Homo sapiens: one gene and its partners. The protein of the gene in region 2 purifies or fractionates together with the protein of the main gene of each other region. This does not show direct contact. Each region holds a gene or a part of one and is shown on either strand. Other genes may lie near its edges.

Evidence for each region.
Region 1: the proteins of PUS7 (region 2) and IQGAP3 purify together in Homo sapiens (affinity purification with mass spectrometry; one large-scale study listed by BioGRID and IntAct). This does not show direct contact.
Region 3: the proteins of PUS7 (region 2) and DOHH fractionate together in Homo sapiens (co-fractionation; one large-scale study listed by BioGRID). This does not show direct contact.
Region 4: the proteins of PUS7 (region 2) and NOC3L fractionate together in Homo sapiens (co-fractionation; one large-scale study listed by BioGRID). This does not show direct contact.
Region 5: the proteins of PUS7 (region 2) and ENOPH1 fractionate together in Homo sapiens (co-fractionation; one large-scale study listed by BioGRID). This does not show direct contact.
Region 6: the proteins of PUS7 (region 2) and ACOT13 fractionate together in Homo sapiens (co-fractionation; one large-scale study listed by BioGRID). This does not show direct contact.
Region 7: the proteins of PUS7 (region 2) and OAS1 purify together in Homo sapiens (co-immunoprecipitation; one large-scale study listed by IntAct). This does not show direct contact.

What each region holds. Positions count from the first base shown.
Region 1 is NC_000001.11:156,538,066-156,541,565, reverse strand, and holds part of IQGAP3 (ras GTPase-activating-like protein IQGAP3), read left to right. Parts: intron 1-649; coding exon 650-858; intron 859-1,575; coding exon 1,576-1,728; intron 1,729-2,028; coding exon 2,029-2,192; intron 2,193-2,532; coding exon 2,533-2,757; intron 2,758-3,500.
Region 2 is NC_000007.14:105,456,272-105,459,771, reverse strand, and holds the end of PUS7 (pseudouridylate synthase 7 homolog), read left to right. Parts: intron 1-512; coding exon 513-604; intron 605-1,845; coding exon 1,846-1,982; 3' UTR 1,983-3,269; downstream 3,270-3,500. UniProt on the Homo sapiens protein: Pseudouridylate synthase that catalyzes pseudouridylation of RNAs.
Region 3 is NC_000019.10:3,494,175-3,497,674, forward strand, and holds part of DOHH (deoxyhypusine hydroxylase), read right to left. Parts: intron 3,440-3,500; exon of another isoform or gene 3,184-3,439; intron 2,870-3,183; exon of another isoform or gene 2,713-2,869; 5' UTR 2,641-2,712; coding exon 2,367-2,640; intron 2,232-2,366; exon of another isoform or gene 2,057-2,231; intron 1,981-2,056; exon of another isoform or gene 1,941-1,980; intron 1-1,940. UniProt on the Homo sapiens protein: Catalyzes the hydroxylation of the N(6)-(4-aminobutyl)-L-lysine intermediate produced by deoxyhypusine synthase/DHPS on a critical lysine of the eukaryotic translation initiation factor 5A/eIF-5A.
Region 4 is NC_000010.11:94,352,940-94,356,439, forward strand, and holds part of NOC3L (nucleolar complex protein 3 homolog), read right to left. Parts: intron 2,155-3,500; coding exon 2,024-2,154; intron 119-2,023; coding exon 1-118. UniProt on the Homo sapiens protein: May be required for adipogenesis.
Region 5 is NC_000004.12:82,451,090-82,454,589, forward strand, and holds part of ENOPH1 (enolase-phosphatase E1), read left to right. Parts: coding exon 1-156; intron 157-3,500. UniProt on the Homo sapiens protein: Bifunctional enzyme that catalyzes the enolization of 2,3-diketo-5-methylthiopentyl-1-phosphate (DK-MTP-1-P) into the intermediate 2-hydroxy-3-keto-5-methylthiopentenyl-1-phosphate (HK-MTPenyl-1-P), which is then dephosphorylated to form the acireductone 1,2-dihydroxy-3-keto-5-methylthiopentene (DHK-MTPene).
Region 6 is NC_000006.12:24,701,577-24,705,076, reverse strand, and holds the end of ACOT13 (acyl-coenzyme A thioesterase 13), read right to left. Parts: coding exon 3,462-3,500; 3' UTR 31-3,461; downstream 1-30. UniProt on the Homo sapiens protein: Catalyzes the hydrolysis of acyl-CoAs into free fatty acids and coenzyme A (CoASH), regulating their respective intracellular levels. Has acyl-CoA thioesterase activity towards medium (C12) and long-chain (C18) fatty acyl-CoA substrates.
Region 7 is NC_000012.12:112,909,962-112,913,461, reverse strand, and holds part of OAS1 (2'-5'-oligoadenylate synthase 1), read right to left. Parts: intron 2,412-3,500; coding exon 2,227-2,411; coding exon of another isoform or gene 2,204-2,226; intron 1-2,203.

The DNA of each region.
Region 1 (3,500 bases), on a different chromosome or scaffold from region 2:
TCTGTCTCATAGTAAACATTCTATGTATTAGTTGTTTTGTTGTTATTTCCAATAAATTAGCTCAGAGGCTTCTTTCTTTTTTGCTCAAATGCCAATTCCAAAGGTGATTCAAGGAGAATCACCAGCTAGCTCTGACCTCCCCTAAATTATAAAGCCCACTGTCCATCCCGTCTACCTGTCCTTCCCGGTGTGTACAGACATTCCTGACAGAGGAGCACTGTGGGAGCAAGCAGGGCTGAGTGGTGGCTGGCAGGTAGGAGGAGGAGGAGGAGCAGGTTGGCCCAGCAGAAGTGAGTGGTAGATTGGGGTAGACTAGGGAGGTCTGGGAGGATAATCAGAGGGAGCTGTGGCTCTGGCTTTGGTGTCAGAGGTCCCTGGGATAGACCCAGGCTGGGGTGAATCAGAGGCATGGGAAGAGCAGCTATTATGTCATCTCCAGTTATAAGACAGGAAGCTCAGGGACAGGCCTGGCTAGAAGGCTACCCACTGCCCTCCAAGTGCAAGCAGAACCAGTTAGAAGAGGACTGGGGTTGGGGACCTGCTGATCCCAAGCAGAACGGGGACTGGGGTGGGCTGACTCGGGCAGGGGCTGGTGAGGAGGCCTCTGATGAGGCATGGCTAATCCTGATGCCTCCTCCCTTCCTCCCAGTGCATGCACCCCACCCTCCTCTCAGTGTGGTACGCAGATTTGCCCATCTCTTGAATCAAAGCCAGCAAGACTTCTTGGCTGAGGCAGAGCTGCTGAAGCTCCAGGAAGAGGTAGTTAGGAAGATCCGATCCAATCAGCAGCTGGAGCAGGACCTCAACATCATGGACATCAAGATTGGCCTGCTGGTGAAGAACCGGATCACTCTGCAGGTATGGGGCCCACCAGTCCTCCCCTCCCCGAGATCTGCCTGCCTCTGGAGATGTGATGCTGACCATTCTCTGCTTGCTAATCAATTTTTTTCAAAATGTTGTGGATTTTGTCACCTGACTCAGGTCCTTGTTCCAGTGGCCCTCTGCCATTCTAATAAATCATTTTGGGGGACCCATGACAGAGTAGAAAGAGCATGAAACCTAGAATCAGAATGCCTGGCTCTGCTGATTCCCAGGGATGGGGCTGTGGGTGCTCATTTCACTTCTAAGTCTGTTTTCTCATTAGCAAACTGAGAATAATGAGAATGTCCACCTCTCCAGGCCAAATATAGAGACAGATATGAAAGCTGTTTAAATCATAAATTACCATATAAATATGCAGTGACAGGGTAATAGTGATATAGTGATAGCTCCACCTCAAATGTGTGTAGCAGTCTAATAAGAAGAGATAGCAAAAGCCAAATAGACACAATTCCTCAGCCTGGCAAACCAGTTCTCTTTGGGGACTCACTCCCATGACAGGAGAGGAAACAGATGGAGTCTCAGGGCACTTGGAGGGGCCCTTCCTCACCCTAGAACTGCTTCTGTCCCCCAGCTTATGCCTGTTCCTTGAACAGCAGAAAGCCCTGGCTCTTCAAGGCACTGATTCTAGACCGTATGTTCTGTGCCCTGGGATGGCCTAGGCTAGTTGTATCACCCGCTCCTCCACCCCTGCAGGAAGTGGTCTCCCACTGCAAGAAGCTGACCAAGAGGAATAAGGAACAGCTGTCAGATATGATGGTTCTGGACAAGCAGAAGGGTTTAAAGTCGCTGAGCAAAGAGAAACGGCAGAAACTAGAAGCATACCAACACCTCTTCTACCTGCTCCAGGTTAGCAGAGGACTTTCCAAGGAGAAGTCTCTCCCGTCTCCTGAGGGTCTGAGACTTCAAGGCCTTCTTGTCTGTGCGTTTGGCACCATGCAAGGTGTCCTTTCCCATAATCTTAATTCCTTATCCCCAGGAAAGGAGACTACCTCTTCCCCTGTTTGTCTGGAATGTTACTAGCACCTGGAGAAAGTGTGGTAGTGCTTTCTCCATTCCAGATTTCCATCAGGGGAAAGCCTTTCCTTATCCTATCACTGGTCCTTGAAGTGCATGGTCAGCCATTCCTGTCTCCCCTCTTGCTTGCAGACTCAGCCCATCTACCTGGCCAAGCTGATCTTTCAGATGCCACAGAACAAAACCACCAAGTTCATGGAGGCAGTGATTTTCAGCCTGTACAACTATGCCTCCAGCCGCCGAGAGGCCTATCTCCTGCTCCAGCTGTTCAAGACAGCACTCCAGGAGGAAATCAAGTAGGCTCTCCAGACACAAAGGAATGGGGAGAGAATGGGTTAAGAGATCCCCCTGTTGGCTCCTTCACAAGGTGACAACTTGTTGAGGCCTAAGGGTAGAAATGGAATCAGAAGACCTCTTTTCTCTACCTCCTGTGGAGAAACCGTAAAACATCTGGGACAGCACAGTGGGAGGATATGGGCTGACATGCTAACACAAAGGATGAGAGAGATATCAAGACATTCCTTAAGAGCGGGGACACCAGGGCAGGCTTTGAGAGCCAAAATCTCAAAAAGGAAAAGCAACGGTATGTCCTACACAGAGGCAGAAGACTGGTTTCAATGACCTCTTAAACCACAGGTCAAAGGTGGAGCAGCCCCAGGACGTGGTGACAGGCAACCCAACAGTGGTGAGGCTGGTGGTGAGATTCTACCGTAATGGGCGGGGACAGAGTGCCCTGCAGGAGATTCTGGGCAAGGTTATCCAGGATGTGCTAGAAGACAAAGTGCTCAGCGTCCACACAGACCCTGTCCACCTCTATAAGAACTGGATCAACCAGACTGAGGCCCAGACAGGGCAGCGCAGGTGAGCACATGGGCAGAGGGAGGAGCTCTCTTTGATCAGCTGTGTCTTGATCAGCTGTGTCTTGGACCCTACTGGGGAAGCTTGGGTGTACTTTGAAGGTGGCATATAAATGGGCATGCTGATCTATGCAAATATGACACCAGCTTTGTAGGCATGAATAAGGTAGTCTTTTAGACCCCCTCTGATAATTAACATGAAACTGATGTAAATGACTTCAGACCTGGTGGGCTTAACATAAAATGAGTACAGATGAATATGCAAATGTGCTTAATTGCTATGTCAGTGCTTGCAAATGATGTGTCAAATTTGGTGGTAGTAGGGCCGGACATAGTGGCTCACGCCTGTAATCCCAGCACTTTGGGGGGCTCAAGGTGGGCAGATCACCTGAGGTCAGGAGTTTGAGACCAGCCTGGCCAACATGGTGAAACTCTATCTCTACTAAAAATGTAGGTCAGGCGTGGTGGCTCACGCCTGTAATCCCAGCACTTTGGGAGACCGAGGCAGGCGGATCACGAGGTCAGGAGATCGAGACTATCCTGGCTAACATGGTGAAACCCCATCTCTACTAAAAATACAAAAAATTAGCCGGGCGTGGTGGCAGGCACCTGTAGTCCTAGCTACTCGGGAGGCTGAAGCAGGAGAATGTCATGAATCTGGGAGGCAGAGCTTGCAGTGAGCCGAGATCGTGCCACTGCACTCCAGGCTGGGCGACAGAGCGAGACTCTGTCTCAAAAATAAAAAAT
Region 2 (3,500 bases):
TAACTAATAGAATATAATTGGATTGAGCCTATTATATTCAGGCACAGTGGCTCACGTTATAATCCCAGCAGTTGGGGAGACTGTGGCGGGTGGATCACCTGAGGTCAGGAGTTTGAGACCTCCCTGGCCAACATAGTGAAACCCCATCTCTACTAAAAATACAAAAATTAGCCAGGCATGGTGGCAGACACCTATAGTCCCAGCTACTTGTGAGACTGAGGCAGGAGAATTGATTGAACCCAGGAGGCAGAGGTTGCAGTGAGCCAAGATCACACCACTGCACTCCAGCCTAGGTGACAGAGTTGAGACTCCATCTCAAAAAAAAAAAAAAATTATATATATAAGCAAAACTTAGGTATAAAATCTGGCCCTGCTATATTATTCAAGATTCCTAACTATAATTATTTACAGTAAACTTACTTGTTTTTCTTGCTAAATAAATGATGATGAGTGGCTTAGTACCTTTTATGAAAGTTCACATTCACACTTATCTTTATTCATATGTTTTGAAGGGAAGTCGTTGCATATGATGATCCCAAAATTCCACTTTTCAACACAGATGTGGACAACCTAGAAGGGAAGACACCACCAGTTTTTGCTTCTGGTAAGTTTACTCAGTCATCAGCTCTGTGTTGACTTTGAAATGTTTTGTTAAACAAAAACATAATTTTTTTTTGAAAACTGCTCTTACAAGCACTACCACCACCCATGATTTCATTGTTGTGTTTTATGACCTTACTTTCACAATTATGGCTGAAAGTTAGTGATTAAAACCAGTAAATCCTCCTGAAAATAAGTGCATGTTATAGATGGTTGTGATATTAGGTGATGGAGTATTTCTCCCCATCCCCCACAGAGACTTACCAAAGGTGAGTGAAAATTCAGGAAGAGTCTAAAAAATTAAATTGGTTGGGCAGGTGCGGTGGCTCACGCTTGTAATCCCAGCACTTTGGGAGGCCGAGGCGGGCGGATCACGAGGTCAGGAGATCGAGACCACGGTGAAACCCCGTCTCTACTAAAAATACAAAAAATTAGCCGGGTGTGGTGGCGGGTTCCTGTAGTCCCAGCTACTTGGAGAGGCTGAGGCAGGAGAATGGTGTGAACACAGAAGGCGGAGCTTGTAGTGAGCCAAGATCACGCCACTGCACTCCAGCCTGGGTGACAAAACGAGACTCCATCTCAAAAAAAAAAAAAAAAAAATTGGTGGCTGGGCGTGGTGGCTCACACCTGTAATCCCAGCAGTTTGGGAGACCGAGACAAGTGGATCACTTGAGGTCAGGAGTTCCAGACCAGCCTGGCCAACATGACAAAACCCCGTCTCTACTGAAAATACAAAAAAAAAAATTAGGCGGGCGTGGTGGTGGGCACCTGTAATCCCAGCTACTCAGGAGGCTGAGGCAGGAGAATCGCTTCAACCCGGGAGGTGGAGGCTGCAGTGAGCTGAGATTACACCACTGCACTCCAGTCTGGGCAACATAACAAGACTCTGTCTCAAAAAAAAATTAATTAATTAATTAAATTGGCATTCTCATCATCAAATTCTTGTTCTGTTTTTTCCCAGGCCGTAATTTATTATTATTTCTTTAACTTTACATGCGTTTCTCTTTTGTGTTCTTCTGTCATCTGCCTTTTTGTGAAAGTTCCTGGGCAGAATTTCTGTAACCATTCAGCAGGTTCACACTCACAGATCTCTTACTTCCATGGTCTCATTCTCCAAGGCCCCCTAGGAAGTGGAGTCTAAGGAAAGCAGCACAGTTCTTTGTATTTGCTTAGAGATTATGTGACTCTCGCTGGTCTGTCTGCAGCTGCCTTCATTTTCTGACTGTTTTCTTTCTTGCCTTGCAGAAGGCAAATACAGGGCTCTGAAAATGGATTTTTCTCTACCCCCTTCTACTTACGCCACCATGGCCATTCGAGAAGTGCTAAAAATGGATACCAGTATCAAGAACCAGACGCAGCTGAATACAACCTGGCTTCGCTGAGCAGTACCTTGTCCACAGATTAGAAAACGTACACAAGTGTTTGCTTCCTGGCTCCCTGTGCATTTTTGTCTTAGTTCAGACTCATATATGGATTTCAAATCTTTGTAATAAAAATTATTTGTATTTTTAAGTTTTTATTAGCTTAAAGAAATAATTTGCAATATTTGTACATGTACACAAATCCTGAGGTTCTTAATTTTAGCTCAGAATATAAATTAGTCAAAATACACTTCAGGTGCTTAAATCAGAGTAAAATGTCAGCTTTACAATAATAAAAAAAGGACTTTGGTTTAAAGTAGCAGGTTTAGGTTTTGCTACATTCTCAAAAGACAGCAGGAGTATTTGACACATCTGTGATGGAGTATACAACAATGCATTTTAAGAGCAAATGCAACAAAACAAATCTGGACTATGGATAAATAATTTGAGAGCTGCCACCCACAAATATAAATACAGTACTCATGCTGACTGAAATAATAAGACATCTACAAATTTATAAACAAAAAGTGATTGTCATTATCCTGCTTATGTACTAGATTCAGGCAAGCATTATAGACTTTTTGGTTGCGGTGGCTTTTGCATTTATATTATCAATGCCTTGCAGGAACGTTGCATTGATAGGCCCATTTTATTTTTTTATTTTTTTTTTCGAGACAGGATCTCACTCTGTAGCACAGGCTGGATTGCAGTGCAATCCTGCAATTCTCAATCTTGCACTGCAGCCTCGACCTCCCAGGCTCCAGTGACTCTCCCACCTCAGCCTCCTAAGTAGCTGGGAGTACAGGCGCGCACCACCACGCCTAGCTGATTTTTGTATTTTTTTGTAGAGACGGGGGTTTGGCCATGTTGCCGAGGCTAACTCCTGGGATTACAGGCATGAGCTGTGCTGGCCGGGTTTTTTTTTCTTGATGTAAACGTGTACAGCTGTTTTATTAGTTAAGGTCTAATTTTTACTCTAGGTGCCTTTTATGTTCAGAACTCTTTCCACTGGACTGGTATTTGCTCAAAAATAAATAATGGTAGAGAAGAAAACTATAAAAATGGACAAGGCTTTCTTCTATCAGTAGCGTTTACCCTTTGTCACCAGTGGCTTTGGTATTTCCATGTCTGGCATTGCATAAACTTCTCTGGTGTGAAAGGATAAATATGCCTTTCTAAAGTTGTATATCAAAATTGTATCAATTTTTATTTTCTATGATTTCTAGAAACAAATGTAATAAATATTTTTAAAATCTCCTTTCTACTGGTTATGTAAATAAATCAAATAAATATATCAAAATGAGTGCAGATAAGAATCTTGACCTTGACTAAAGGTAAGGAACTAAATGAATGTGGGATCCTCATCAGAAATGGTGGTGACACCAAAATGTGTTGTGATCAGCTGTGAAGTATGAGGATAATCTGAGTCAAATGCTACGAATAATTGACTGTGTTGGACTGGACTCCAGGTTATTGGAATCACTCACTCACCTTCCAATGTGCTTTATGGAGTAGAAAAGAAAGGAATGGAAAAGAGCT
Region 3 (3,500 bases), on a different chromosome or scaffold from region 2:
ACCGGAGGACACCCCTCCCAGGGCTCTGCCACTGTGGGGAAGCCCCGCCTCTGTCCACGGCTGATTGGAGCAGCAGTCGGTACAGGCTCCCCGCTGGACCAATCAGCATCCCCTCCCCAGAGCAAGGCACTGCCTGGAACCGCACCTGGCTGCCGCTCAGAGCAAAATGGACCCCATCCCGGCCCGTACCATGAGACAGGGAGACAAGTATATCCCTACAACTCGGGATCACAGCTGACAAGCAGCTCCAAGAACCCAGGAGGTCGGGGGTGCAGTGAGCTATGATCACACCACTGTACTCCAGCATGGGCGACAGAGTGAGACCCTGTCTCAAAAAAACAAACAAAAAAAATTCCCAAAACAGGCCGGGCCTGCCGGCTGGAGACTCCAGAATTTGGGGCCACTGGGGCTACACTTAGGTGGGTTCGGGTACAGGCGCAAGTGCAGGCGTCGCAAGCCCAGGTCGGAGCAAGGCTGGCGGCGGCTCCCCGTAGAGCCCTGGGTGCAGATGTTCCTTGAATTTTCTCAGAATCGAGCTCAAGGGCCCTGCCTGTGAGGCAGCTGAGCTGGTGGCTTTTGCCTTTCCTGAAGGTTGCGGTTTGCGTTTGTGCACCTGCCTGGCAGGCTCCCTCTGCCGGGAAAAGTCCCGTATGCGCCAACACAGGCTCTGTGTCAGGCACCTCCCACGCGCTAATTGCAAATGAGCTCACTGGTTACAGAAACACAGTCCCAGTGGCACAGACGCACCAACTACCTGCCTCACTGGTCTCCTTCGCTGTCTAGGTCCCTCGCTACAACAGTCCATTTTTTTTTTTTTTTTAGAGCTTCGCTCTTGTGACCCAGGCTAGAGTACAATGGCGCGATCTCCACTCACTGAAAACTCCGCCTCCTGGGTTCAAGTGATTCTCCTGCCTCAGCCTCCCAAAGTAGCTGGGATTACAGGCGCCGGCCACCACGCCCAGCTACTTTTTTTTGTATTTTTAGTTGAGACGGGGTTTCACCATGTTGGCCAGGCTAGTCTTGAACTCCTGACCTCAGGTGATCCACCCGCCTCAGCCTCCCAAAGTGCTGGGATTACAGGCGTGAGCCAATGCACCCGACCTGAACAGTCCATTTTTTTGAGACAGGGTCTCACTCTGTTGCCCAAGCTGGAGTGCAGTGGCATGATCATGGCTAACTGCAGCCTCAACCTCCCTGGCTCAAGTAATCCTCCTGCCTCAGCCTCCTGAGTAGTTGGGACCACACGCGTGAGCCACGATGCCCGGCTTGTATCTGTATTGTCACTGTTTTGTCTCTTACTACATGACAGAGCCTGGCATACAGTAGGTGCTCACTAAATGTGTGTCCAATGAGTGGAGTAAATCTAATATACATTAGGGATTGGGGATCTATGGCTTGTCGCTTGTTTTTATACGAGCAAAGAATGGTTTTTAAAACACTTTTAAGGGTTTAAGGCGGGGTGCGATGGCTCATGCCTGTAATCCCAGCACTTTGGGAGGCCGAGGCAGGTGGATCACTTGAGGCCAGGAGTTCAAGGCCAGCCTGGCCAACATGGCAAAACCCATCTCTACTAAAAATACAAAAATTACCCAGGCGTGGTGGCACACACCTGTAACGCTATCTACTTGGGAGGCTAAGGCAGGAGAATCACTTGAACCCGGGAGGCAGAGGTTGCAGTGAGCCAAGACGGCACCACAGTACCCCAGCCTGGGCGACAGAGTGAGACTCTGACTCAAAACAAACAAATAAATGGTTTAAAACAAAAAATCAAAGGGATAGTACTTCCTGATGGGTGGAATTTATATGAAATTCAAATCTCAGCATTTACAAATGAAGTTTGTTTTTTGTTTTTTCACAGACAGGATCTCACTCTGTTGCCCAGGCTGGAGTGCGGTGGCACGATCATGGCTCACTGCAACCTTGACTTCCCGGGCTCCAGCGATTCTCCCGCCTCAGCCTCCCAAGTGGCTGCGACTACAGGTGCATGCCACCATGCCTGGCTAATTTTTGTATTTTTTCTAGAGACAGGGTTTTGCCATGTTGCCCAGGATGGTCTTGAACTCCTGAGTTCAAACGATCCACCTTCCTGGGCCTCCCAAAGTGCTAAGATTACAGGCCTGAGCCACCGCCCCCTGCCCAGTTGAGGTTGTCTGGGCACACAGCCTTAGCCATTTGGTGACAGATGACCTGCGCTGGCTTTATTGAGTCGCTGTCTGGCTGCAGAGCTGCAGGTATTTACTATCTGGTGCTCTATGGGGCAGTTGACCACTCTGATATTTATCACCTGAGTGAGGAAGGGGACACGTGGGGTCATGAAGAAGTGAGGCAGGAGGGAGCAGGTGCCCGGGACACAGACAGGTGCTCACCTGCCTCATGGCGCACCATGGGCTCCTGACGGGTGTCTTGCAGCACGTCCACCAGCATGGGGATGGCGCGGGCATCCTGCATCTGGCCCAGGCAGTAGGCCAGCTCGTGCTTGAGCAGGGCGGAATCGTCATCGAAGGCCTGGCTGATCCATGCAATGGCGCCTGGGCCGCCGAGCCCACGCAGCGTGAACAGCGCCCGGAAGCGGGCCTGCAGGGGCTGCTTGGGGTCCACCAGCGTCTGCCCGATGGCATCCACCTCCTGCTCCGTCACCATCGTGCTGTCAATGGGTCCCGGCCTTCCACAACCCTGCTCAGGCTAAACCTGGGGACGCGGGGATGTAAGAACCTGTGGCAGAAAAATGAGAGCCCAGGTTAGAAGCCCCCTTCACCAGTGCGTTGTCTGTTCCTAGGACCTGGGTGGGGCAAATTCCTACCCACTGACCAACCTGAGCATCTACGCTGAAAGCTCAGCTCCAACCTCCCTACTAGCTGTGCAGCCTTCCGTAAGTTGCTTTCCCTCTCTGGGCCTCAGTCTCTGCACTGCCTCTCGCCTATAGGCCTATCAGAAATGACCTCCACTGTCTGCTCTCCACACAGCAGCCAGAGGGACAGCTGACCCCCAAAATGGCCCTAGCGATCCCCACCCAATATTCAAGGCTTTATATAGCGATCCCCACCCAATATTCAAGGCTTTATATAGTCCTCTCCCACTCTGAACAGGGCTGACCCATGTGAATGCCAAGAAGATGGAACAGAGCAAGACTTCCAAGGTTAGGGCATAAAAAGCACAACAGTCTCATCCTTGTTCTCTCTCTAGGGGAAGCCAGTGACCATGTTGTGAGGATGCTCAAGCAGTCTTTTGTAGGGGCCCACGTGGCAAAAAACTGAGCCCTCCCACCAACAGCCATGTGAGAGAAGTGGGCTGGCAGCAGCTCGTCCAGCCCCAAGCGAACCTTCAGATGATGCAGCCCCAGAGCGTCTCCACTGAGGCCTTACCAGAGGCCAGACCCAGAGCCAGCCAGCTAAGCCAGGCCCAGAGCAACTGTGTGCGACACTGTTTACTGTTGTTGAAGGTAACCAAGTATGTTTTTTTGTTTGTTTTTGAGACAGGATCTTGTTCTGTCGCCAGGCTGG
Region 4 (3,500 bases), on a different chromosome or scaffold from region 2:
AAGGAGTAATATCTTTAAATAACTCCATCAGAGAAACAATTACCAGCTTTCGAACAGTAACAGCCACATCAGGATCTTGTTCCATCAACATAGAACGTAATTCTTTCAATTTTTTAATCTGTTAAAGAAATAGCTTATAAAGCTGGAGAAATCATGACGAAACAATTATGAACAAAAGACAACAGCCCCACATCCGGCAAAACAAGCGGAATTCACACAATGACTCCAAGTCTAGTCATGCCACACCAAACTCCAGACCCTGCTCACTTTACCAAGAGATAAGTCACTAAAGTCATAAAGTAATTGTATTAGTCCGTTCTTGTATTGCTAGAAAGAAATGCCTGAGGCTGGATAATTTATAAAGAAAAGAGGTTTATTTTGGCTTATAGTTCTGCAGGCTGTAGAGGAAGCTCGGTGCCTGCGTCTACTCCTGGTGAGGCCTCAGGAAACTTACGATCAAGGCAGAAGGCAAAGGGGGAGCCAGGGTGTCACAGGAAAGATAGGGGAGGTTCTAAGCTCTTTTAAACAACCAGCTCTCACATGAACTACCAGAGTGAGAAGTCACTTGTTACCACAAGGATGGCACCAAGCCATTCATGAGGGATCCACCCCTATAATCTAAACACCTCCCACCAGGCCCACTTCCAACATCAGAGGTCACATTTCAACATAAGATTTGGAGGGGACACACCTCCAAACTATATCAGTAATCATATTTTTGTCATATAGTTAGAAACATACAGACCTTAAAAAATTAGTTTACATTTATTATTTAGCTATTTTGGGAAATTCTTTTTTGCTGGATTTTCCTAAAGTACGTGTGTCCTATTCTTCTAAAAACGCTTTTCAAAATATACTAAAATGTTATATACATTAACCAAATATATCAGTCATACACATGAATTAATCAGGAATTACATGTAATATAGCCACATTAACTTGAGCTTCAAAGATAATTTCTATGATGGTTTCGACTGCTTTGATGAACTACTATTGTCTGTGAGCACAGGTTCCTGAGTAGAAGATCTGGGTTCCAATCCAGTGGCTGTTAAAATCTGGAACAAATCACTTGGGTTTTTTAAGGCTCAATTTTCCAGCTGTAAAATTAGATCAATCTCTTATGCCTATGGTTTTGTAATGATTGAGAGAATACACATAAGAAATATTCCAAATCTCTCTTCCCTAATTCTGCTCTAGATCTTCCCCTCACTTCATTAGAAAAGGACAAGTACTACTCCAAAGCATTCCCACATGAAATTTGCTTCTATAAATGTAAATAAGCTATTCTATCATTTCATAAACAAATACTTGTTATAATAGTATGCTGGGGACACCAGCATAACAATAATAATAGTATCATTTTATATGACTTCACGTATATTTCATCATATAATCCTCACCACAAAGTTTTGAAAAAGACACTGTCCTTTTTTAGAGATGAAAGAGTCTTGGATAAATAACTTACCCAAAGTCTCACAGATAGTACTTATCAGGGCCAAGATTAAACCTCAGATTTCTCTAGTTCATGTGTTATAACCATCACTAACTCAACGACTATACACATGGCACAATAACACTTTACTTTAACTTTGGCTCTAGTTCACTTAAAATATTTTCAACTTACAAATATTCCTGAACTAATTCCATACACTTCCCCTGTAGCGCGCTTTTTAAAAACTCCACGGGTATGTCAAGCAAATTTGCAAACAGGTTCCTCCTCCCTAATACAATTTTATAAATTTAAACATTTTTAGAGTTATAAGATGTCCAGTATTTTCATATATGAAGATGAGGAGAATAAGATTCAGAGAGTTTAAGTAACTTTTCTAGGATTACAAAAGAAATTAAGTTCAGACATAGCATTAAGCTAAGATTCTGTCTACTCTCTTACTCTAACCCAGCTACTATGTTTAGTTAATGCTTTTCCTTTTAGTGTATGCTTATAGGTAACAAGGGAATCTTAACAATTAGGCATTTACACCATACCTAATACAAAGAGCCTAAAGAAATTAATACTACCTACATTATTTTCTGGATCTGATAATATGGCAGATGCCAAGGCTGCAATATGCATCTTCTTCTCCTGTAATTTCTTCTTTCTCTCAATCAAATGTTCTTCTATGGTCAGCTCTTGAATAGGATCTTCAATGATCTCTAAAACAGATTAGATGTTCCCTTACATATTCCTCTGCTTACAAGTATCCAAGAATCTTAATAAAATATTTTTACAGTAATAATAATAATGACAACAGCTAAGAATTTTGTATTTACTACTACACATCATCTCCTCAACAATACAGGTACTATCATTGGACCCATTTTATAGATAAGAAAACTGAAGCAAAGGAAGAGAAAATAACTTGGCTAAGCTCATAAACCAAAGGAAAATAGGATTCAAGCTCATAAACCAAAGGAAAATAGGATTCAAACTCAGGCAGTCTGATTCTAGAACTTTTTTTTTTTTTTTTTGAGACAGGGTCTCACTTGGTCACCTAGGCTGGAGTACAGTGGCACTATCACAGCTTACTACAGCCTCCACCTCCCAGGTTCAATTGATCCTCCCACCTCAGCCTCCCCAGTAGCTGAGACCATAGGTGAGCCACAATACCCAGCTAATTTTTGTGTTTTTTGTAGAGACGGGGTTTCACCATGTGGCCCAGACTGGTCTCAAACTCCTGGGCTCAAGTGATCCTCCCACCTCAGCATCCCAAAGTGCTGGGATTACAGGCATGAGCCAGTGCAACCAGCCTAGAGCTCATATTCTTAGCTTCTATGATAATAAGCCCAAAATAATTCATATTAATTAACAAATAGGATAATCCTATTTAGTTTTTTTTTAAGTACAGAATATTCTCCTTTGTTTTTAACACTATATATTACTTTATACAAACTAATACTTCATAGTTTTGGGCTACAGAAAAACATGTCCACCTTAGGAAATTCATAGGGAACTAGATTTAATCAACACTAGCATAATCTGTAATGGTTTTATGATGGGTGACTGAAAACAGTTAAACAGTTGACCTGTAATTCATTTTTGCTATTAATGAGGTCTGCTAAGCGAAAGTAAAATTTAACTAGATTGTTCTGTCACAAATTCCAAACTAATATAATTTCAAACAATAAAATGCATTATTTCAGTTCAACTTTGATTAAATGGTCCTAGGTAATAGAAACTGACATTCAATTATATGAAACATATGCAAGTATAATTGTGCTAGAAACAAACCAAAATGACTTCATACTACAGAATCGCTTTTGTAATTTAAAGCTAAAAAGTTAACAGTTATTTGTAAGTAGTCTTTCTCTTACAATTAAAAGGAATTCAGAACAGTAATAATTAACAAGACACACTTCTTGTATGCCTAGATATTACAAATATGATTGTGTAAATTTTTCCATAATCAAAAAAATAAAGAATCTATTAATAATTCCACAAGATGAAGCTTTCAAATGTGGAAAAATGTTCAAAGTGACCTTGAAATGAGCAGTACTCCAAA
Region 5 (3,500 bases), on a different chromosome or scaffold from region 2:
ATCTGGGAATGGAGTGGATGATCTGCAACAGATGATCCAGGCCGTGGTAGATAATGTGTGCTGGCAGATGTCCCTGGATCGAAAGACCACTGCACTCAAACAGCTGCAGGGCCACATGTGGAGGGCGGCATTCACAGCTGGGCGCATGAAAGCAGAGTATGTGCTTGAGTCAGCCTAAACATTTCACCAGTCCCAAATCCAAATATGTTTTTTCACCAGTCCTCTCTTTCCAGCGTAAGTCACAAGACTGGTAAAACAGATAAAAATCCACACTCTTTTTAGTCTAACAAGTGAGCTTTGTTTCATTTTTTCAAAACTTGGCTAAAATATTTCAGCTGACTAGATTACCCGGACCTGCCAGTCTGGTCTTGTGGGTTGATTGAAGGACTTGTCAAAGTCTCCGTTTAAAATAGCTTCCTAGAAAATGGTGACTTCCTTGAACTAAGTCATATTTGATTCTTAGCACATGAGTGACAGCTCCGTTGGGCTGCTTGCCTGGACTGTTAATTACCTGCTTTTTGCTCTATGAGACATAGGAAATTTTGTGCCCCACCGTGTTGAGGTTACTCAGAGGATGTCCGCACTACCACGTTCTTCTTTGCTCTTTTGAGCAACTTCCACAGATTCTTTGAGTCTTGGTTATGGAGTTCCTAATAGCACTCCTGCCTGAGGAGACTTTTGAGTATTATACTTACTGAGAAATTCTTGATTGATTCAGACAGGGTCCTACTCTGTTGGCTGGAGTGCAGTGGCATGATCATGGCTCACTGCAGCCTTGACCTCCCCTAGTTCAGGTGATCCTCCCACCTCAGCCTACCGAGTAGCTGGGACTAGGCATGTGCCACCATGCCCAGCTAGTTTTTGTATTTTTAGTACAGATGGGGTTCTACCATGTTGCCCAGGCTAGTCTCAAACTTCTGGGCTTGAGCGATCTGCCTGCCTTGGACTCCCAAAATGCTGGGGTTACAGGCGTAAGTCACAATACCTGGCCTATTTTTTTTTTTTTAGAGCTGGGGTCTTGCTCTGTGATCCACACTGGAGTGCAGTGGTGCCATCATAGCTCACTGTAGCCTTCAAGTGAACCTCCCGCCTCAGCCTCCTCATTAGCTGGGACCACAGGCACGCACCACCACACCTGGCTATTCAAAAAACATTTTTGTAGAGGTGTGGTCTTGCTATGTTGTCCATACCATATTGCTGATAAATTCTTTTCGTTTGTTTGTTTCTGTTTTTGCTTTGAGACCGAGTCTTGCTCTTTGCCCAGGCTGGAGTGCAGTGGCGCAATCTCAGCTCACTGCAACTTCTACCTCCTGGGTTCAAGCGATTCTCCTGCCTCAGCCTCTGGAGTAGCCGCCTGCCACTATGCTAATTTTTGTATTTTTAGTAGACATGGGGTTTCACCATATTGGCCAGGCTGGTCTTGAACTCCTGACCTCAAGTGGTCCACCCCATCTCAGCCTCCCAAACTGCTAGGATTACAGGTATGAGCCACCCCTCCCGGCCTATTTTTGTTTTTGGAGATAGTCTCACTCTGTTGTCCAGGATGGAGTGCATTCACACAATCTTAGCTCACTGCAACCTCCGCCCTCTGGGTTCAAGCAATTCTTGTACCTCAGCCTCCCAAACAGCGGGGACTACAGGTGCGTGCCACCACACCTGGCTAATTTTTTGTATTTTAGTAGAGACAGGGTTTTATCATGTTGTCCAGGCTGGTCTTAAGCTCCTGAGCTCAGGGCAGTCCACCTACCTTGGCCTCCCAAAGTGCTAGGATTACAGGCGTGAGCCACTGTGCCAGGCCTGCTGAGAAATTCTTTTTTTTTTTTTTTTTTTGAGACGGAGTCTTGCTCTGTCACCCAGGCTGGAGTGCAGTGGCGTGATCTCAGCTCGCTGCAAGCTCCGCCTCCTGGGTTCACGCCATTCTCCTGCCTCAGCCTCCCGAGTAGCTGGGACTACAGGCGTGTGCCACCACGCCCGGCTAATTTTTTGTATTTTTAGTAGAGACAGTGTTTCACCGTGTTAGCCAGGATGCTCTCGATCTCCTGACCTTGTGATCCGCCCCCCCTTGGCCTCCCAAAGTGCTGGGATTACAGGTGTGAGCCACTGCACCTGGGTGTGAAATTCTTAAGGATTTTAGGCCATTGCCTGCTGTAAACCCTAGGATCCAAGATTGTTTCCAGCTGCATATATTTCTTTTGTGTTTCTGTCAAATGAGATGTTGTTTCTTTATTTATGTACTTTACGAGGAGCTTCTACCTTTTAAAGGATGGACTGGAATTTCAGGATATGCCAGTGATCTGGGAATATCAGCCAGGTTCACTTTGTAAAGCACTCAAAAAAGTGGAGACAGGAGACTGTGCACCCGGTAGTTAGCCCATACTTCTCTTGGTCTTGGTTCCTTAATTATACAACTAACTGCTGAAGACAGGAAAAATCCTGTCTCCATGAGTGCAAACTAGTACTCAGAATAACATACTTACATGTGTACTGGTTTTGAATACGTTGATCTCTTTCCTTCAATTAGTGCAACATGTTAAGCATGTTAATACATATAAAGCGGAAGACTCCACTGACATTTTCCAGGTAATCTTTTAGAGATGACTGGTTCTACAACCCAAGTTCTTTGTGCTTCTCTTTTCACCTTTCTCCTGTGATGTTAATTTCCTCCATGACTATGGAAAACACTAGAATTGGTAAGAGAGACTGAGTGTCAGAAGTCAGAAAAAGACATCTTTTGCTGACTGGTTAATGTGAGTTGGTACAAGTCTCAACTGACTTGTTATGTAATTTTTTCCCCATATAATAAAACATTGTTTTCTTAGTTCTCAAAAAATGCAGGCCGGGTGCAGTGGCTCATGCCTGTAATCCCAGCACTTTGGGAGGCTGAAGTGGGGGGATCACTTGAGTCCAGGAGTTTGAGACCAGCCTGGGTGACATGGCAAAGCACCATCTCTACAAAAAATTAAAAAAAAAAAAAAAAAGCTGGGGGTGGTAGCACATGCTTGTAGTCCCAACTACCTGGGAGGCTGAGGTGGGAGGATCACTCGAGCCCAGGAGGTAGAGGTTGCAGTGAGCTGAGATCATGCCACTGCACTCCAGCCTAGGCAACAGAGCAAGACCCTGTCTCAAAAAAAAGTAATTCCATTTTCTAGCTAATCATAAGTTTATAGCTTTGAGCCTTCAAACTTTGTTTTGATTATTTTGGGTGCAGATCTTTCTAAAAGCATTTCCATGCTTTCTTAAAGCACAGTGGACATAATTTAACCTTTTCTTGTCATGAAGAACATCAAAGATTATATTATATCATTGCTGTTGTTTGCTTTTTTGAGTTCTTCGGGAATTTAAAAAACACTTTCCCATTTCATCCTTTTATCTGTAGTCCCTTTTTACTGTCACTAGTGGCTGTCTGTTCAAAACTATCCTCCTTTCCACATAGATTGTTGCTTCTAATCTGCTGTGAGCCTGGAACTTGGGCAGTATGTTTATTAGAACTGCAGGAGTTT
Region 6 (3,500 bases), on a different chromosome or scaffold from region 2:
TTTCTCCTTTTAAATGAAGAAAAGCTTTGCTTAAGGGTTGCATACTTTTATTGGAGTAAATCTGAATGATCCTACTCCTTTGGAGTAAAACTAGTGCTTACCAGTTTCCAATTGTATTTAGCTTCTGGTTGGAATTTGAAAAAAAAAGAAAAAAAGAAAAAGAAAACCTAAATAAAATAGGTGAAAGTTCCCTGACTATTCAGGTGAATACACAAAGTTTGAAGTGTTAACTTTTTCTTTCCATTTCACTGATGTTACTGGTCACCTTAGAGAATTATTTCATAGTCTGTGGCTAAATAGTAAATTCAGAAGAAAAATACCTGGCAATTGAGTGTGTAACTTCAACAAGAACAGGAATCAAGAACATACTGTCAGCTTTCAACAGTTAGCAACCTGGCCTTATGCCTTGCTTCATGGGAAAGGGCCATTCTTAAATTTCAAAATGCTTTCATGTGTCCTCTTATTTAAAAATTAGAATCTATTTGAAATAACATTTTGAATGTTTATTATAACCAGGTACTCTTCTAAGCTCTTGTCTTAACCTCTCAACCTTTGGTGGAAATAGATGCAGAGGTTAAGTAACTTGCTCAAGCTCAGATCATAAGTAGTGGAGGATTTAAAACCAGGCTGGCTGGCTCTTAAGGCCTATGCTCTTAATTTACCATGTTGAATTAATTTACCATATTGAATTACACTTATGTTCACCAAGTTAGGCATTTTGGCAGCCATTGTTTACGTTTTTATTTTGGAATAATTTAGAAAAGTTACCAGAGTAATATGAAAGCTGTTGTGTAATCTTTACCCTCATTTTTATTATTTTGCCACATTTTTTTCATTTTCTCTGTACACTTATACCTGTGAGCTATTTGAGTTTGTTGCACACTTTGTGCTTCCTTACCCCTTCCTTAGTACTTCGGCATATGTTCCAAGTACAAGAATATTTCATATAACTAGAGTAAAATTACCAAACTCAGGGAATGTTGATACTCTTTATCATCCATATTCGTTTTGTTGTCCCAGTATCCTTGGTAGCTTGTTTTAGATCCCCCCCTCTAGAGTACAGGATCATTGAATTTAGTTGTTCTCAGTTGTCTTTAATGTGGAACAGTTCCTTAGCCTTTATGTGTTCCATGACCTCTATGTTTTTTGGAGTACAGGGCAATTTTTCTTGTAAATTGTTACTCATTTTGCATTTGAATTGTTTATTCATGCTTAACGCCCTTCTCAAGTATACTCTCCATCTGCTCTTCATTGATGTTACTTTTGAGCGCCTGGTCAAGGTGTCCTGGTTTTGCCCTATGTGTGGTACTTACTACTAGCAATCTCTGGGAAGCAATGTGCAAATACCCTGTTCCTTTATCAGGAGCTCCCTTGGCGATTCTTTCCAGACTAAAACCCAAACCAGTCTTTAACTATGATGGTTACAAAATAGTGATTTTCCAAATCTAATGCTTTGTCCATTTACAGCATTTGTTGTAAGAGAGTGTTCTATCTCTGCCATTTATTATCTACCTAAACACTATGGCCTCATATTTTTTCCCTCCAAATCATAATTTGCATGCCTTTATTATTTTGAGCATCTCCTTTCATGCATAAGATACTGTAACCTTTCTGTCCCAGCCTCAAGCCCTGGAGTCAGCTGTTTCTCCAAGGAGCCCAGCTTCCTTTTAGTGGGAAATACTAGAAGTAAACATCTGGGACTCCTGTATGCTCACTGCTGCTATTGCTACTGTGGAGTCTTCTGCCCTTTCACAGTGGACAGATCAGCAGGCGATCTAATGTAGGGAAAGGATTTGTCTTTAACTGTTAACTTGACTTAAATTTACTTAAAGCTGCATCCTTTTTAGTCTTTAGTCATGAAATGTTCATTAAGATTCCCTGACAGAAATCAAGTAAGAGTCAGCTGGGTGCAGTGGTTCACACCTGTAAGTCCAGTACTTGGGGGGCCAAGGCAGGAGGATTGCTTGAGCCTAGGAGTTTGAGACGAGGCTGGGCAACAGTGAGACCTTGTTTCTACAAAAATAAAATTAGGCGTGGTGGCACACGCCTGTAGTTCCAGCTACTCAGGAGACTGAGGTGGAAGAATGTCTTGAGCCTGGGATTTTGAGGCTATGGGAAGCTGTGATTGTATCACTCCAGCCTGAGTGACAGAAGCTGTCTCAGAGTGCCACAGTCAACTGAACTTGGAGACTTCTGAGAAGTGAACTTGGTCTTTTCAATACTATAGACTTGGAGGTTTGAGATCTGCATGGTTTTATTCTCGGTACAAGAAAAGGGGCTAGTAGCATGCTTTTTTTCTTCCCCCTCTATTGGACCATTTCCTGTAACACTAACATGCTTAGCCTCAAACTTTTCTTGAGGTCTTTTTTAGGCATATGGCTCAATCTATTTTATTTTTCAATATGGGCTGTAGTTCATATATTTTGAAGTTTCATAATCTTAAAAAAAGGAAATGCAAGTGTAGCTTGGCATTTTAGATCTGGGAAGGACCTAAGATTCGCTAAGGATTGGCCATTGCTGTGGTCTCCATGTGTTTCCCCTAAATTTGTATGTTAAAATCCCAACCCCCAAGGTGATATTAGCAGGTGGGGGTCTTTGGGAAGTTATTAGATCACGAGGGCAGAACCCTCAAGATTGGAGTAAGTGCCCTTACAAAAGAGAACCCAGGCTGGGCACATTGGCTCACACCTGTAATCCCAGCACTTTGGGGGGCCAAGGCAGGCGGATCACCTGAGGTCACGAGTTCGAGACCAGCCTGGCCAACATGGTGAACCCTGTTTCTACAAAAAACTACAAAAATTAGCTAGGTGTGATGGCACATGCCTATAGTCCCAGCTACTTGGGAGGCTGAGGCAGGAGAATCACTTGAACCCAGGGGGCAGAGATTGCAGTGAGCCGAGATCGTGCTGCTGTACTCCAGCCTGGGCAACAGAGCGAGACTCCATTTCAAAAACGAGAACCCAGAGGGCTCACTTGCCCCTTCCACCACACAGTGAGAAGGCACCATCTATGAGCCAGGAAGCGGGCCCTCACCTAACAGGATCTGCTGGGCCTTGACCCAGGACTTTCCAGCTTCTAGAACCATGAAAAATTTCTGTTGTTCCTAGCAGCCCAAACAGAATTAGAACCATTAATTTCTATTTCTCCTTTAGCTTAACACTGGACTTTAGTTTTAATCTTAACTGAGAGTGGTCCTGCTAGTTTCTTTGCTTTACCTGTTTTTAAAACACTTTGAGCTAAGAATTTTTCACCCAATTATCACACATGATTAGAAAACAAGATGCTTAAAGTGAAAAAAGACACCCCCACCTTTACCCTACTTGATATCCAGGTCCTTTTCCTCCAAGAATATTTCTAGCTGCTTCTGGTTTTGCTAGTTTATTTCAAAAATTACAATTGTTTGAGTCAAATCTATACTTGATATTCATTGTTGGGTTTCTTTAGGTCATTCTGCTGTTCTCTCAGTTTCCCAGGTGTTTTGTGTGTCTTCCTTGTGCTAT
Region 7 (3,500 bases), on a different chromosome or scaffold from region 2:
GTGAGGAGAGAATGAAGGAGAATCAATATTTTAGAAGAATGGCTGAGAAGTTTCAAAACTGATTAAAGATATCTACCCACAGATTCAGGAATCTTAACGGAATCCCAATCAGGACAAACAATAGGAACCCATCATTAAGACACAGCAGATTGAAGCTAAACAAAATCAAAGACAAAGAGAAAACTTTTACATGCAGCCAGAAGAATAAGACAGGTTACTTATAAAAGAGCTGCAGTTAGACTGGCAACTGACTTTTTAATGATGACACTGGAAGATGGAATGATATATTCAATATACTGAAATGACCACCCAGCAAAAGCACCCTTCAACAATGAAGGCAAAAGCATGACATTTTCAGACAAACAATAACTGAGAGAGTTTACTACCAATAGACCATCATCAAAAGAAATCCCAAAGGATGCATGATCATTTAGGAAAATTACCCCAGATGGAATGTTAGAGGTGTAAGACAGAATGAATAGTGAAGAAAGTGGTAAATCTGTGAGCAGATTAACTAAACATTTGGCTATAAAACAATAATACTTCGAGGCACTTGAAAATATAAACAGACTTGAAATATACAAGAAATGTAGCATATAAGTTGGAGGTGGTGATGATGGTGGTTAGTGGAGTTAAATTATTGTTAATCTTGTCTTGTTTTAAAGGAGAACAGCATCAAGAAAGAAAGAAAAAGACAATTCTTGGCTGTGCAGGACTCTCTTGATCATTGTACAATAACTAGCATTCTTGTCTTCTTTCCACTAAATATAAGTAGCACCCATGTCCTCCCATCACCATGGTTACCAAAAACACCCTCATTAATTTTCAATATGTCCCTGGGGGCAGTGCTGCTTTTGTCAGGAACTGCTTTTGTAAATTCTACAATGCTCAGGCTCCATGATTACAATTCATAGAACAGCAAACACTTAGAAGTCTGGCAACTAAATGATTGTCTTTTTTTTACCTAGAGGTGTTACTTTTAAATTGGAAAGTTTATTCCTGATTATTTTCATTCATTCGTTCATTCAAGAAATATACATTGAATGCCTATTATTATCAGGCAAACTCTTAAGTCAATAGACCCAAATTCGAGTTTTTGTTTGTTTGTTTGTTTGTTTGTTTGAGAGAAGATCTTGCTCTGTCTCACAGGCTGGAGGGCAGTAGTGCAATCCTGACTTACTGCAACCTCCTCCTCCCAGGCTCAAGCGATCCTCCCACCTCAGCCTACCCAGTAGCTGGGGCTACAGGTGCTCACCATCACACCTGGCTAAATTTTTAGTTTATTTTGTAGAGACGAGGTTTTGCCATGTTGCTCAGGCTAGTCTTGAACTCCTGGGCTCAAGCAATCTACCTGCCTTGGCTTCCCAAAGTGCTGGGATTACTGGTGTGAGCTACCGCGCCCAGCCAAATTCAAATTTTACTTCTGCTACTTATTGGCCGAATGAGCCATGTGACCCAGGAGTTTCTCTTTTTGACCCAAGTTTCTCTTGGTGTAAAATGGATTTAATAATAATGCCTAACCTTATCTAACTTACAGAATCACTGTTAAAATTGACTAAGATGCAGGGCATTTAAAAGTGAACAGAAAATTGTATCACATCCACAAAACATAGATAAGCTAAGCACATACTACATGTTAGCTTTTATTATGTGTACTCCTATGGTGGCTAAAATATGCTACATTTATCAGGACCAACTATATGCCGTGTTACTCTAGCTATGGCATGCTACTCGTTGCAGATAAGAAAGCAGAAAGAACAGAAAGGTTAAGTTGCTTACTTAAGGCCAGCCAGCCAGTAAGTGGGAGGAAAGGGCATCTGAACATATATTTGTTTGAAACTCTTGTTTTAACTTATCCACCTTCTGAAGAGTGTGGTTGACTCTCTCTCTGTGTGTGTGTGCGTGCGTGTGTGTATGTAGCATTGATTCATTTATTCAACAGTTATTTACACCTATTATGCACCAGGCTCTGTTTTAAGTTCTGGGGATACAGCAGTGAACAGAACACCAAAATCCCTTCCTTTCTCTCTTCCTTCCCTTTCATTCTCCCTTCTGTTGCAGGCTCCTCTCTCCACCTCTTTTTCCTTTCTCTCCTTTTTCCATCCCTCTATTTCCCTCCACCACTCCCCCTCCTCTTCCCTTCACTCCCTTCTTTCTCTCCTCCCCCCACCCCTCCTCTGCTCCCAGTCGAGACAGGACCCACCAGGCCTGGTGGGAGGGCCATACATTTTGGTACCAGTGCTTGACTAGGCGGATGAGGCTCTTGAGCTTGGTGGGGCGCTGCTTCAGGAAGTCTCTCTGTAGTTCTGTGAAGCAGGTGGAGAACTCGCCCTCTTTCTGCAGGTCGGTGCACTCCTCGATGAGCTTGACATAGATTTGGGGGTTAGGTTTATAGCCGCCAGTCAACTGACCTGTTCGGGCAAAATCTACAACTTAGGTGTCAGCTCTTCTCTGAATTTCCTTCAGTCACTCTGAGGGGACAATCTCCCTGGCCATGGGGTTTGATTGAAAAGTGCAGCAGACCCAGGGCTGGGAAGTCTTGAGGTCCATTCCTGATCCTCCCTCCTGCCCTCTCCACTGCCATCACCCCATCCAAGCCACCACCGTCACTCGCCGGAACTATGGCAGCAACCTCTTTACAGGTTCCCCCACAGCCTGTTCTCAACCTGGCACCTAGAGAATGCTGCTGATCATGCTGCTTCCTGCATCCCATAACATCTGGAATTTTAAAACCCAAAGATCTTATGGTGGCCAATGATGTCTGGTGTGATCTGGTCTCTGGAACCTCTCCCACCTCACCTCCTGTCTTGCTTCCTTTGCCCACTTTCTACTTCTCTGACTTTTTCTCTCTTCCTCAAATGTGCCATGGTCATTGCTGCTTCAGGGCCTCTGCACTTGCCATTCCTCTTCCCAGAACCTCCAGATCTCCCCAAGGCTCACTCCTTCTCGCCACTCAGGCTCAGGGACCCTCCCTCACGACCCTGTCTAAAAAAGCTCCCTAACCCCCATGGCTATCTATTGTTTCACCCTACTTAGTTTTCTTTTCTTTTCTTTTTTAATCACTCCTTATATTCTTTTCTTTTTTCTTTTTTTCGAGATGGAGTCTCACTCTGTTGCCCAGGCTGGAGTGCAATGGCATGATCTTGGCTCATTGCAACCTCCATCTCCTGGGTTCAAGCAATTCTCCTGCCTCAGCCTCCCGAGTAGCTGTGATTACAGGCACACACCACCACGCCCAGCTAATTTTTGTATTTTTAGTAGATGTGAGATTTCACCATGTTGGCCAGGCTGGTCTTGAATTCCTGACTTCAAGTGATCCCCCCACTTTGGCCTCCCAAAGTGCTGAGATTACAGGCGTGAGCCACTGTGACCAGCCTTCTCCCTCTTGTCTTTTACAACCATTGTACTTCAGCCCCCAACACAGGAGATGGCACAAAGGAGAGAATCCAAAACTTTCTCATACCCTGGTGTCTTTGGAGAGTCAGCATTTTTTTTTTCAT